4 separate regions of the Homo sapiens genome follow, and regions 1, 2 and 3 are each linked to region 4. The links come from fine-mapping of genetic effects on gene expression. A gene starts in region 4. Each other region holds a variant in brackets. All regions are shown on one strand. Distances are between the middles of the regions.

Region 1 (2,682 bases), 27 kb after region 4:
TAGATCCACTGACAGCTTGCACTGCAGTGGAAAAGCTGCAAACACTCAATGCCAGCCTGTGAAAGCAACCAGGAATGGGGATGTACCCAGCAAAGCCACAGGGACAGAGCTGCCCAAGACCATGAGAACCCACCTCTTGCATCATCGTGACCTGGATGTGAGACGTGGAGTCAAAGGAGATTATTTCAGAGCTGTAAGATTTAATTACTGCCTTGTTGGATTTCAGACTTGCATGGGGTCTGTAGCCCTTTGTTTTGGCCAATTTCTCCCATTTGGAATGGGTGTATTTACCCAATGCCTGTACCCACATTGTACCTAGGAAGTAACTAACTTGCTTTTGATTTTGCAGGCTTATAGGCAGAAGGGACTTGCCTTGTCCCTGATGAGACTTTGGACTGTGGACTTTTGAGTTAATGCTGAAATAAGTTAAGACTTTGGGGGACTGTTGGGGAGGCATAATTGGTTTTGAAATGTGAGGACATGAGATTTGGGAGGGGCCGGGGCAGAATGATATGGTTTGGCTGTGTCCCCACCCAAATCTCATTTTGAATTGTAGCTCCCATAATCCCCACATGTCATGAGAGGAACTCGGTGGAAGGTAATTGAATCATGAGGTGGTTTTTTTCCCTGCGTGAATAAGTCTCATGAGATCTGATGGTTTTATAAAGGGCAGTTACCCTTCACACACTCTCTTGCCTGCTGCCATGTAAGATGTGCCTTTGTTCCTCTTTCGCCTTCTGCCATGATTGTGAGGCCTCCCCAGTCATGTGGAACTGTGAGTCCATTAAAGCTCTTTTTCTTTATAAATTACCCAGTCTTGGGTATTTCTTCACAGCAGTATGAAAATGGACTAATACAGGGGTATAGTAGGCATTGGGAAACAAAGAACAGGGAAGAAAATATTTCTGAGATTCAAAGGAGCTTTGCCAGGAGTATAGCCCAATGTAATGTAAGAGTGGAGAACCAGCTAAGATCAGGAGCCCTAGAGAGAAGAACCTGTCTGAGCAGAGGTTGGACTTAGATGATGACGAATGGGTCAGAGGCATCCAGAATTGAAGGATTTTAAAGTAAAACCTATTTGTGGAC[A/G]TGGGAAAAGCTGAATTAATTACTGTTTTATGTACCTGTAAATGCCTTCCCTTCTGTGAGGCTTTGTGGTTATAAGGAACAGTGTTCAAGGGCATCTGGCTCAGTTAAAGGAAGCTGACTATAAGGAAACCTCTGCCTTTGCGTGGAGTCAGGACCAAATAACCCAATGAGTAGTGCATAAGAAACATACAAAAATGATGTCCCGAAAGATTTTCTTCTGTGTTTTTCAGTGATGCCATCTGCAGTTTTGTGATCTGCAATGATTCTTCCCTTCGAGGTCAGCCCATTATCTTTAATCCTGACTTTTTTGTGGAGAAACTCCGACATGAGAAACCTGAGATTTTCACTGAGTTGGTGGTCAGCAATATCACAAGGCTCATCGATTTACCTGGAACTGAGTTGGCTCAGCTGATGGGGGAAGTGGACCTTAAGTTGCCTGGCGGGGCTGGCCCAGCATCAGGATTCTTCCGGTCTCTCATGTCTCTCAAGCGAAAGGGTAGGAGATGTGTTTGTGAAGGGTGGGCAGGCCTCAGCTGCTCCCTGGGCTTCTCTCTCAACATCTACACATTCACCGAAGAGTTGCTATTAACTTAAAGCATTTTTTGGCCATTTTTTCAGTTTTTATAAGTAGTAACACCTTAAGTAATAGTAATACAAATTATAAAAACTGTCTAGATAAATAAATAATTAAACTAAAGCAAATATTTTCAGTCCCTGAGAGAAGACATGATTAACTTAGGTAGTCATCGGGGCATCTTGATTTTCATGCCCTATTAATATGTGAAAATAATATTTAAAAACCAAAGTTACATAGCTAGAGACTATAGAACAGAATGCTTGAATTTTCTTTTTTTGAAGGGATGGGGTCCCACTTTGTTGCCGATGCTGGAGTGTGGTGGTGTCATCATAGCTCACTGCAGCCTTGAATTCCTGGGCTCAAACTCTCCTTCTGTTTCAGCCTCCCACTAGCTGGGACTACAGGTGCATGACACCATGCCTGACTGTTCTCTATTTTTTGTAGAGATGGGGTCTCACTATGTTGCCCAGGCTGGTCTCAAACTCCTGGCCTCAAGCAGTCCTCCCACCTCAGCCTCCCAAAGCGCTGGGATTACAGGTGTGAGCCACCATGCCTGGCCTTCTGTTTGTTTGTTAAATTAAATACTAACACGCTAGATATCTCCTTACTTACTAGATATATGCTTCTTACTTGAATAAGAAGATGGTCTTTCCCTTCAGGGAACCTACAGTCTAATATTGAACTTAGAGAGAGCTGATTGAGAGTTGTCCTGCTCGCGTTTTCTGGTGCACTTCCAGTTCTAAGGTTTTTGTTTACTGACCATGTGAAAATGCTTGCTGAATTGTAAAATAGGATGCTTGAGTGGTTTTAGGTATGATGATTTTGTACTATTTGTGTGAAATATAGCCCTGTCATATCATATGGTTTTTCAGAAAAAGGAGTGATATTTGGGTCCCCACTGACGGAGGAAGGCATTGCCCAGATATACCAACTGATTGAGTATCTACACAAAAGTAAGACTACTTGAAATTTTATCATTCTTTGTTTAATGAAGAATTCTGTTTTCTGTTGAGAGCTAA
Region 2 (2,682 bases), 80 kb after region 4:
TGCTTGTGACATGTTTCTGGGAGCAATAGCAGGAATAAGAAGACTGGTTCTGGCTTATGGGAATCTGAGTTCCTTGAAGGCCAGAGCTGTTCTTTATATTCTGTTTCCACACTACCTAGTGCAATGCCTGGCACATACGAGGCCTTTGGTGAGGGTGGGAAAGTAAGGTGGAAGGGTGGGTGGGCGGAGGCCCGGAAAGATGTGTACGGGAGGTCCAGGGACACTTCCTGGAGCTGTTACTTAGAGACGAGTTACATAAGGACGGGGGCTTGGGGCGCTGTGGGGCAGAGGTGGATGTTTTGAGGGCCCAGAGTTCATTCATTCCGTGTGTATTTATTTAGCTGGTGATGTTTCACAGGGAGTCGTCAGGGATGTCAGAGTCTTGGGTGGGGGGTTGATGGAAGGGAGGTGCTGGATGGTCCAGGAAGGTAGGGCTGTCAAGAGTCGGGGCTGCAGATGAGAGGAGGAGGGAAATGGAAGCCCTGAGGGGTAGACAGGAAAGGGTAGGATAGAGTGTGTTGTGAGAGAGTCAGGCTACACTGCAGGCATCGTTTCCCCAAAATGACTTCTAGACAGTACTTTGGATAAACAGGTGTTTTGTTTTTTTTTTTTTTTTTTTTTAAAGACAGAGTCTTGCTCTATCCCCCAGGCTGGAGTGCAGTGGCACGATCTTGGCTCACTGCAACCTCTGCCTCCTGGGTTCAAGTGATTCTCATGCCTCAGCCTCCCAAGTAGCTGAGATTATAGGCACAACTTGTTGCCCAGGCTGGAGTGCAATGGCACGATCTTGGCTCACCGCAACTTCTGCCTCCTGGGTTCAAGCGATTCTCCTGCCTCAGCTCCCGAGTAGCTGGGATTACAGGCATGTGCCACTACGCCAGGCTAATTTTGTATTTTTAGTAGAGACAGGTTTCTCCATGTTGGTCAGGCTGTTCTCAAACTCCTGACCTCAGGTGATCCGCCCACCTCAGCCTCCCAAAGTGCTGGGATTACAGGTGTGAGGCACCGCGCCCAGCTGCTAATTTTTATATTTTTAGTAGAGACGGGGTTTCATCATGTTGGCCAGGCTGGTCTCAAGCTCTTGACTTCAGGTGATCCACTCGCCTCGGCCTCCCAAAGTGCTGGGATTACAGGTGTGAGCCACCATGCCTGGTGATGAACAGTCTTTAATAGTGTTTAATATGTGATAGAAAAATATAACTTATATGTTAAGTCTGAATTTCTAGATTCTTTAGGACCAGGCTAAAGTGTATATTTGGGGTTGTTTTGTTTTGTTTTTTAGAGACAAAGTCTCTGTCATCCATCCAGGCTAGAGTGCAGTGGTGCCATCATAGCTCACTGCAGCCCCTAACTCCTGGGCTCAAGCAATCCTCCTGCCTCAGCCTTCTGAGTAGCCGCGATTACAGGCACACACCACAGTGCACAGCTAATTTTAAAATTTTTTTTTAGAAATGGGGTCTTGGTATGTTGCCCAGGCTGGTCTCATATTCCTGGCTTCAAGTAATCCTCTTGCCTTGCTCTCCCAAAATGCTGGGATTACAGGCATGAGCCACTGTGCCCACCTAAAGTGTGTATTTGAATTTGTATCAAATTTAAAATGTTGAGGAAGAAATAGAAAAGTGGCCTGCATATGTGATAAAATTACTGAAAGTTTGCTAAA[G/C]TTTGGTGAAGATTACCATGGGCGAAATGGTGAAGGGGAAGATGACAGGGTAGTTTTAGGCACAGGAGTTCCTCCACAACCGAATAGGGGCTCCACTGACGGAGGGGGTGGGAGGGGAGCAGAGGGGAGAGCAAAGGAAGCTGTGTTTTTGTTTTGTTTTGTGTTTTTCTTTTTGAGACGGAGTCTTGCTCTGTTGCCCAGGCTGGAGTGCAGTGGCGCGATCTCGACTCACTGCAAACTCTGCCCCCCGGGTTCACGCCATTCTCCTGCCTCAGCCTCCCGAGTAGCTGGGACTACAGGCATCCGCCGCCACGCCCGGCTAATTTTTTTGTATTTTTAATAGAGACGGGGTTTCACCATGTTGGCCAGGATGGTCTCGATCTCCTGACCTCGTGATTCACCCACCTCAGCCTCCCAAAGTGCTGGGATTACAGGCGTGAGCCACCGCGCCCGGCGGCTGTGAGGGCTGATAGGGCACTGGTTCTCAAACTGACCAGGCAGCCAAGTCACCTAGAAGTCTTTCTGAAGCATGGCCGGGCCTTACCCCTGGAGTCTCTGATGCAGGTCTGAGGCCCAGGAACTTGCATTTCTCATTGGTTCCCAGCTGATGCTGATACTGTTGGTCCAGCATGACACAGAACCACTGATGCAGAGGTGGCAGTGGGTGTGCGGTTTGTGCCCTGTGGTGGGTGTGGATACAGGGAGGCCGCCCACTGCGGGAAGTGGAGGGGCTGGTGTGGCTGGGAAGACCCCCAGGCAGAAAGGTGGGATTGGGCCTTGGCCCACAGGATGAGAGCAAGCTCACGAGCTGGCGCCTGGTGCTGTGCACACAGTGGGCGCCGAGGCGGGCAGGGGCCCAGGAGGGCGGCAGCTGGAGCTGGTCCTCCACAATTAGGAGGGCTGATTGCCTGGGCCACACACCTGCAGCATAGTGCCAAAGGGGAAAAAGGGAAATAAATCCAGACCCTCTGAGAGTGCCCCCAGGAGGCTGCCTACTCTAGTTTTTCTGCCATTTTGATTAG
Region 3 (2,682 bases), 33 kb after region 4:
ACCTGCCCTTCCTAAACCTGGAATTATTGAGGTTAAACAGCTTAAATAACACACTGTAATCATTTTTACATCTATGTGAGTTGTACTCAAATGGTTATTAGTGTCCTTTGAAATTCTCATTATCCAGGGGACTGTTTTCATTGATAACCTTTTTAGTCTGTTAGGGAAGAACCAATAATTCTGACCCTATTGGGAGCTGCCTGTTATAAGGAGCAGCTTGTGAATAAGGACATTCATTCTCATTTTTCATTCTCATTTTTCTTTTAGCTGTAAAATATCTGAGTGGGGAAAAGTGGAGTGAGTAGCATTATCAAAGGCATGTGTGGATCTTTTTTTTTTTTTTTTTTTTTTAAATATAGAGATGGGGTTTCACCATGTTGCCCAGGCTGGTCTCGAACTCCTGGGCTCAAGTGATCTGCCCACCTTGCCCTCCCAAAGTGCTGGGGTTACAGGCATGTGCCACTGTGCCTGACTTGGATATGTGTTTATTTCTCTTGGGTATATACCGAGGAATGGAATTTCTTGGTCAAATGATAACTCTCATTTTTTGAGGAACTGCCAAAATGTTTTCTAAGTGGTTATATCATTTTATATGCCCACCAGCAATATAGGAGGGTTTAATTTTCTCTGCATCTTTGCCAACATTTTTTATTGTCAATCTGTTTGTAGTTATAGCCATTGTAGTGGATATGAAGTGGTATGTCATTGTGGTTTTGATTTATAGTTTTTTGTTTTGTTTTGTTTTTTCTTTTTTTTGAGATGGAGTCTTGCTCTGTCGCCCAGGCTGGAGTGCAGGGGCATGATCTCGGCTCACTGCAAGCTCCGCCTCCCAGGTTCACGCCATACTCCTGCCTCTGCCTCCTGAGTAGCTGGGACTACAGGCGCCCACCACCATGCTGGGCAAATTTTTTTGTATTTTTAGTAGAGACAGGTTTCACTGTGTTAGCTGGGATGGTCTCGATCTCCTGACCTTGTGATCCGCCCGCCTCGGCCTCTCAAAGTGCTGGGATTACAGGTGTGAGCCACTGTGCCCGGCCTGATTTATAGTTTCTTGATGGCTAATGATACTGAGCATACAAAGCCTTCTTGGCCACTTGTATACCTTCTGAAGGAATGTCTATTCAAATCCTGTACACATTAAAAAAAATTTTGGCCGGGTGTTGTGGCTCACGCCTGTAATCCCAGCACTTTGGGAGGCTGAGGCAGGCGGATCACAAGGTCAGGAGATCGAGACCATCCTGACTAACACGGTGAAACCCCGCCTCTACTAAAAATACAAAAAATTAGCCGGGCGTGGTGGCGGGTGCCTATAGTCCCAGCTACTCGGGAGGCTGAGGCAGGAGAATCGCTTGAACCCGGGAGGCGGAGGTTGCAATGAGCTGAGATTGTGTAACTGCACTCCAGCCTGGGTGACAGAGCAAGACTTTGTCTCAAAAAAAACAAAACAAAACAAAACA[G/AAACAAAACAAAACAG]GTTTTTTAATCTTTTTATTGTTGAATTGCATTGACATTATTTTGTTATTATGTTTTGCTGTAGTCTTTGAATTGTGTTTCTGCCTGAATCTTTTTTCCCTCTTTCTTTGATGGGAGTTGAGGGGAGGATAATGGTGATAGCACTGATTTTTCTTGCTGATATTTTCTCCCCACTTTGCAAATTCTCTTTTGTCCTCAAGATTTGATGCAGTTTGATGATAAAGGAAACAAGACCAATATACCAGACAAGGACCGGCAAATTGAGGCTCTCCAGTTGCTCTTCCTCATTCTCCCTCCTCCTAATCGTAATTTGCTGAAGTTATTGCTTGATCTCCTATACCAGACAGCAAAGAAACAAGACAAGAACAAGATGTCAGCCTATAACCTTGCCCTTATGTTTGCACCCCATGTCCTGTGGCCAAAAAATGTGAGTGTTGACGGGAAGAGTAAAGATTGCTTGGTTTTCTTGGGCTGGGCCTCATTCTATGGCTGTACATTGGTGAGATTATCAAGGGTCCAAGGTCTAGCCTTCAGCTTTATGAGGTTGGGAACTTACTTTATTAGTTCATTGAAGAGTCATCAGACCTGAGAGGGCCAATTCCTGCTAACCTCACTTATAAATCAATCTCTGGTAAACCTACATGGCATTGTATTAGTAGAAACTCTTAGTGGGAAATTATAACTACTGAATAAACTAGAATACTCATTTTGGCTGTTCATTGTGGAATCCTTAACAGGAAAGGCTTCTTGGGAAATCAAATTAGTTTCTGAAGATCAAATGTTATAAAATTAGAATAGAGCTGTGTGATCTTATGGGATAATGTCACCAAGCTTATGGATTTATAGATGAGATGACACTTGGAGCAATCCTGCCTTGTCCTGACTTTTGTATTTCCTGTAGATATGTAGTCTCCTTGGATAAAGCTGAACTTGCTTCTTCTTATGGAGACCATGGTCTTCTCAGTGACTTACAAGAGAAATAAACTCACTCTCTTTTTTTTTTTAAATGCCTGAGGGATAAAAACACAGAGAAATAAATTCTCTGAAGTCTTTTTTTCTGTTTTTTTGAGACAGGGTCTCGTTTTGTTGCCCACGCTGGAGGAGAGTAACACAATCACTACTCACTGTAGCCTCATCTAAAGTCTTTTAAACAACTTGTTGACCTGGAGGTACATAGCTCATATTCCTGCCCACTTATAATATGGTTTTACTATGTGATGGAGTT
Region 4 (2,682 bases):
CCACTTGTGGCAGGAAGCCTAGCTGGGAACCCTCACATGAAATAAATAGTCACACAAATGACTATGTAATTGTGAGTTGTGATATGAACTGTGAAAGAATAGTACAGAGTTCTTTGTGAAAGTTTACTGAGGGAATTGATTTATACAATGGGGGTCATGGAAGATCTTTGAGCCAGTGACATTTAAGCTTCGACCTGAAAGCCAAAAAAGTGGAAAAATGGACGAGCCAGAAAAAGCAACATGTGCAAAAGCCCTAAGACAGTTCAGAAAGTGAAGCATGTGCAGTACAGTTTAGTAAAAAGGAGGCAGAGTGCAGGGAGAGCCCCAGGTGGCAGGATATCAGAAGGATCAATACAGAAATTCCCGAGAAAAGTCCAGCATAGGAAAACAATATGGAAAAACAAAAAACAACAATGCTCAAAATTTACAATGTTCTCACATATGTTGCCTCAGTTAATCCCTAGGAGAAGTGTGTGCCGCAGGGAGGACAAGGATAATTATGGTTATTCCTACCATTGAGGATTAAAGTTTAGTTTGGGACAAAGTCATGCAGCTTTTGGTTCCATGGTTCATATCACAAGGCAAACTCTGTGGGTTCTCTGGGAAGTTGGAAGGGAGTGAATGTATTGAAGCAGAAATGACCGACTCCAGCCTGGCCAACAGGGTGAAACCCCATCTCTACAAAAAGTACAAAAATTTGCCCTGTGTGTTGGTATGCTGCAATATTGTACTGTGCTCCAGCATGGGAGACAGAGGGAGACCTTATCTCAAAAAAAAAAAAAAAAGAAAGAAATAAAGGAAGAAAGAAATGACCTATGGCTAGGGCTATGCTGAGTATCTGAAGAAAGAAGGCTTTGAACTATACGTTTAAAAGCAAGTACTTCTAGGTTGCCACTCCCTGCCTGCACTTGAGGGATTTATCTCTGGGTCAAGACAGAGAACGAGTCTTGCATTAAATTACATTAAATTAAATGAATTAATTTATGGCTGGGTGCAGTGCCTCATGCCTGTAATCCCAGCACTTTGGGAGGCTGACATAGGAGGATTGCTTGAGCTCAGGGGTTCGAGACCAGCCTGGGCAACATGGTGAAACCCTGTCTCAACAGAAAAAAAAAATTAAAAAAATTGTAAAAAAAAATTATTTATTTTCAACTTTTATTTTAAATTTAGGGGGTACATGAGTTGGTTTGTTATCTGGGTATATTGTGTGATGCTGAGATATAGGGTACGGAGTCTTGCATTTTAGAAAGTGATGAGTCACTTTCAAAGTTGACAGTTCTATAATTCCCTGATTTACATATCAGGACAAAATTTGAGCATAGGCTGGTGATTTCTGACTTGAACCTAAAGGTCTGTGGAATCGGAAGGGTTCATCAAAATGAGAAACTACAACTCCCGGCAGGCCTCGGGGCTGGGTCTTCTTCCCCGCCCCTCCCTCTTTTTCCGCCAGGGCTGGGAACGACCAATGACGGTTAGTCATTTGAATAGACCAATAATATATTAAACGGTTCAGGTTGAGGAGGGGCGGTCGAGTCATCCAATCGCACGGAAGAGGTGAAAACATATTAGCCAATCCAAATATGTGGGGGCGGGACGTAAGGTGGGGCGGTGAAAGAAGTTTGCTGACGAAGATGGCGACTGAGGCACAGAGTGAAGGGGAGGTGCCAGCCCGCGAATCCGGCCGGAGGTGAGCTGAGTTTGGTCCAGTTTCCTGGGAAACGCGGCCTTGGGCTGGTAGTCCTGCCGCCTTTGCCTTGGGTCACGGAGGCGCACGGTTCGGGCTTTGTTTCTTTCTCCCACGGCGTTTCTCATCGTCGCGCCTGCGGGGGCTGAGGCGCGGGGGTCGGGCCTGGGCGCTGGACTCCAGCCAAACCCCCCGCTCGGTCCTGCCGGTGCCCGAGGGGGCTCCTCCCGCTGCGCTGGCTGCAGACGTCCAGCTGGGGGTGGCAGCGCTGATCGCTTTGGCGCCGAGACACCTCTTGATGGCGAGGAAACGGAAGTCCAGGGCTGGTTAGCGAATTCCTCACTGTTGCACACAGCGCTTCACATCTTCTCCGAGGCACTTTGTGCGTTCAGGTCCGAGCAAGGATTTGAGTGTCAATTAGAAACAGTGTTGAGTCCTTGGGCCAGTTTTTAAACCTCTCTCGACTTCAGTTTCTTCATCTGCAAAGGGACGTGAGGATGCCTATTTCCAAGTGTCAAGATTGAATAAGACAATCCATTTAAAGCTAGCACTGAGTTTAGCCGATAATGACAACTCTACGCAATAGATTTTCTTCTTCCTAGTAGAACAGCTAAGGAGCAGATGGGAGAGGGATCTGTAGTCCAGGACATCATGACTTTATTTCCACAGGATGTTCTTTCCTAAACAGCCACACCGAGATTTAGCGTTTTCAGGAGAGAATTTCGAGGTGGTGTTGCCTTAGCCTTGAGACCTAAGTTGTCTTAATTGATTACAATTTTGTTTTTGGTGTAATTCAATAGATTGAGTTTATTTACGTTGCCTCAGTGTAACTCAGTAAAATACTTCGGTTTGGCGTCTTTTGGTTCCATTTGTACCGAATAAGAGATTCCAAGAATCTTGGGAAACTAATAACTTTGTGACTCGGCTTCTTCCTGAGCCCAGATGAGCGTGGTTGAGTGTGTTATTTAAAATATCATACGGGGCCGGGCATGGTGGCT

Direction of the effects. Alleles are on the strand shown, and positions count from the first base shown. SD is a standard deviation of normalised expression in the study named. Not every link is listed here.
In carriers of allele C in region 2, the expression in visceral fat of the gene that starts at base 1,622 in region 4 tends to be lower than with G alone (small effect, 0.26 SD a copy in GTEx).

What was found. PIP is the estimated chance that this variant, and not a neighbour inherited with it, causes the effect. A credible set is the group of variants that fine-mapping cannot tell apart.
Region 1: its variant is the best candidate, but not a certain one, in a credible set for the expression of ARHGAP19 in subcutaneous fat (GTEx, PIP 0.51).
Region 2: its variant is the best candidate, but not a certain one, in a credible set for the expression of ARHGAP19 in visceral fat (GTEx, PIP 0.58).
Region 3: its variant is the best candidate, but not a certain one, in a credible set for the expression of ARHGAP19 in monocytes after Pam3CSK4 (Quach 2016, PIP 0.57).

The regions. Positions count from the first base shown.
Region 1 is chr10:97,264,760-97,267,441 of GRCh38, reverse strand. ARHGAP19 (Rho GTPase activating protein 19) reads left to right here. Exons shown (of 12, transcript NM_032900.6): 2 at 1,317-1,582; 3 at 2,536-2,616. It overlaps ARHGAP19-SLIT1 (ARHGAP19-SLIT1 readthrough (NMD candidate)), which reads left to right. Exons shown (of 15, transcript NR_037909.1): 2 at 1,317-1,582; 3 at 2,536-2,616. Among named protein-coding and RNA genes, the nearest start is that of ARHGAP19, 27 kb to the left of the region's middle. The variant A/G (reference allele first, on the strand shown) is at 1,087.
Region 2 is chr10:97,211,182-97,213,863 of GRCh38, reverse strand. The region is part of intron 11 of ARHGAP19-SLIT1 (ARHGAP19-SLIT1 readthrough (NMD candidate)); the gene reads left to right. Among named protein-coding and RNA genes, the nearest start is that of SLIT1, 27 kb to the right of the region's middle. The variant G/C (reference allele first, on the strand shown) is at 1,661.
Region 3 is chr10:97,258,604-97,261,285 of GRCh38, reverse strand. It overlaps ARHGAP19 (Rho GTPase activating protein 19), which reads left to right. Exons shown (of 12, transcript NM_032900.6): 5 at 1,658-1,884. ARHGAP19-SLIT1 (ARHGAP19-SLIT1 readthrough (NMD candidate)) reads left to right here. Exons shown (of 15, transcript NR_037909.1): 5 at 1,658-1,884. Among named protein-coding and RNA genes, the nearest start is that of ARHGAP19, 33 kb to the left of the region's middle. The variant G/AAACAAAACAAAACAG (reference allele first, on the strand shown) is at 1,458.
Region 4 is chr10:97,291,577-97,294,258 of GRCh38, reverse strand. ARHGAP19 (Rho GTPase activating protein 19) reads left to right here and starts at 1,622. Exons shown (of 12, transcript NM_032900.6): 1 at 1,622-1,687. The coding sequence starts at 1,632. It overlaps ARHGAP19-SLIT1 (ARHGAP19-SLIT1 readthrough (NMD candidate)), which reads left to right and starts at 1,586. Exons shown (of 15, transcript NR_037909.1): 1 at 1,586-1,687. RefSeq lists a silencer at 1,901-1,950 and enhancers at 1,295-2,051, 2,052-2,682.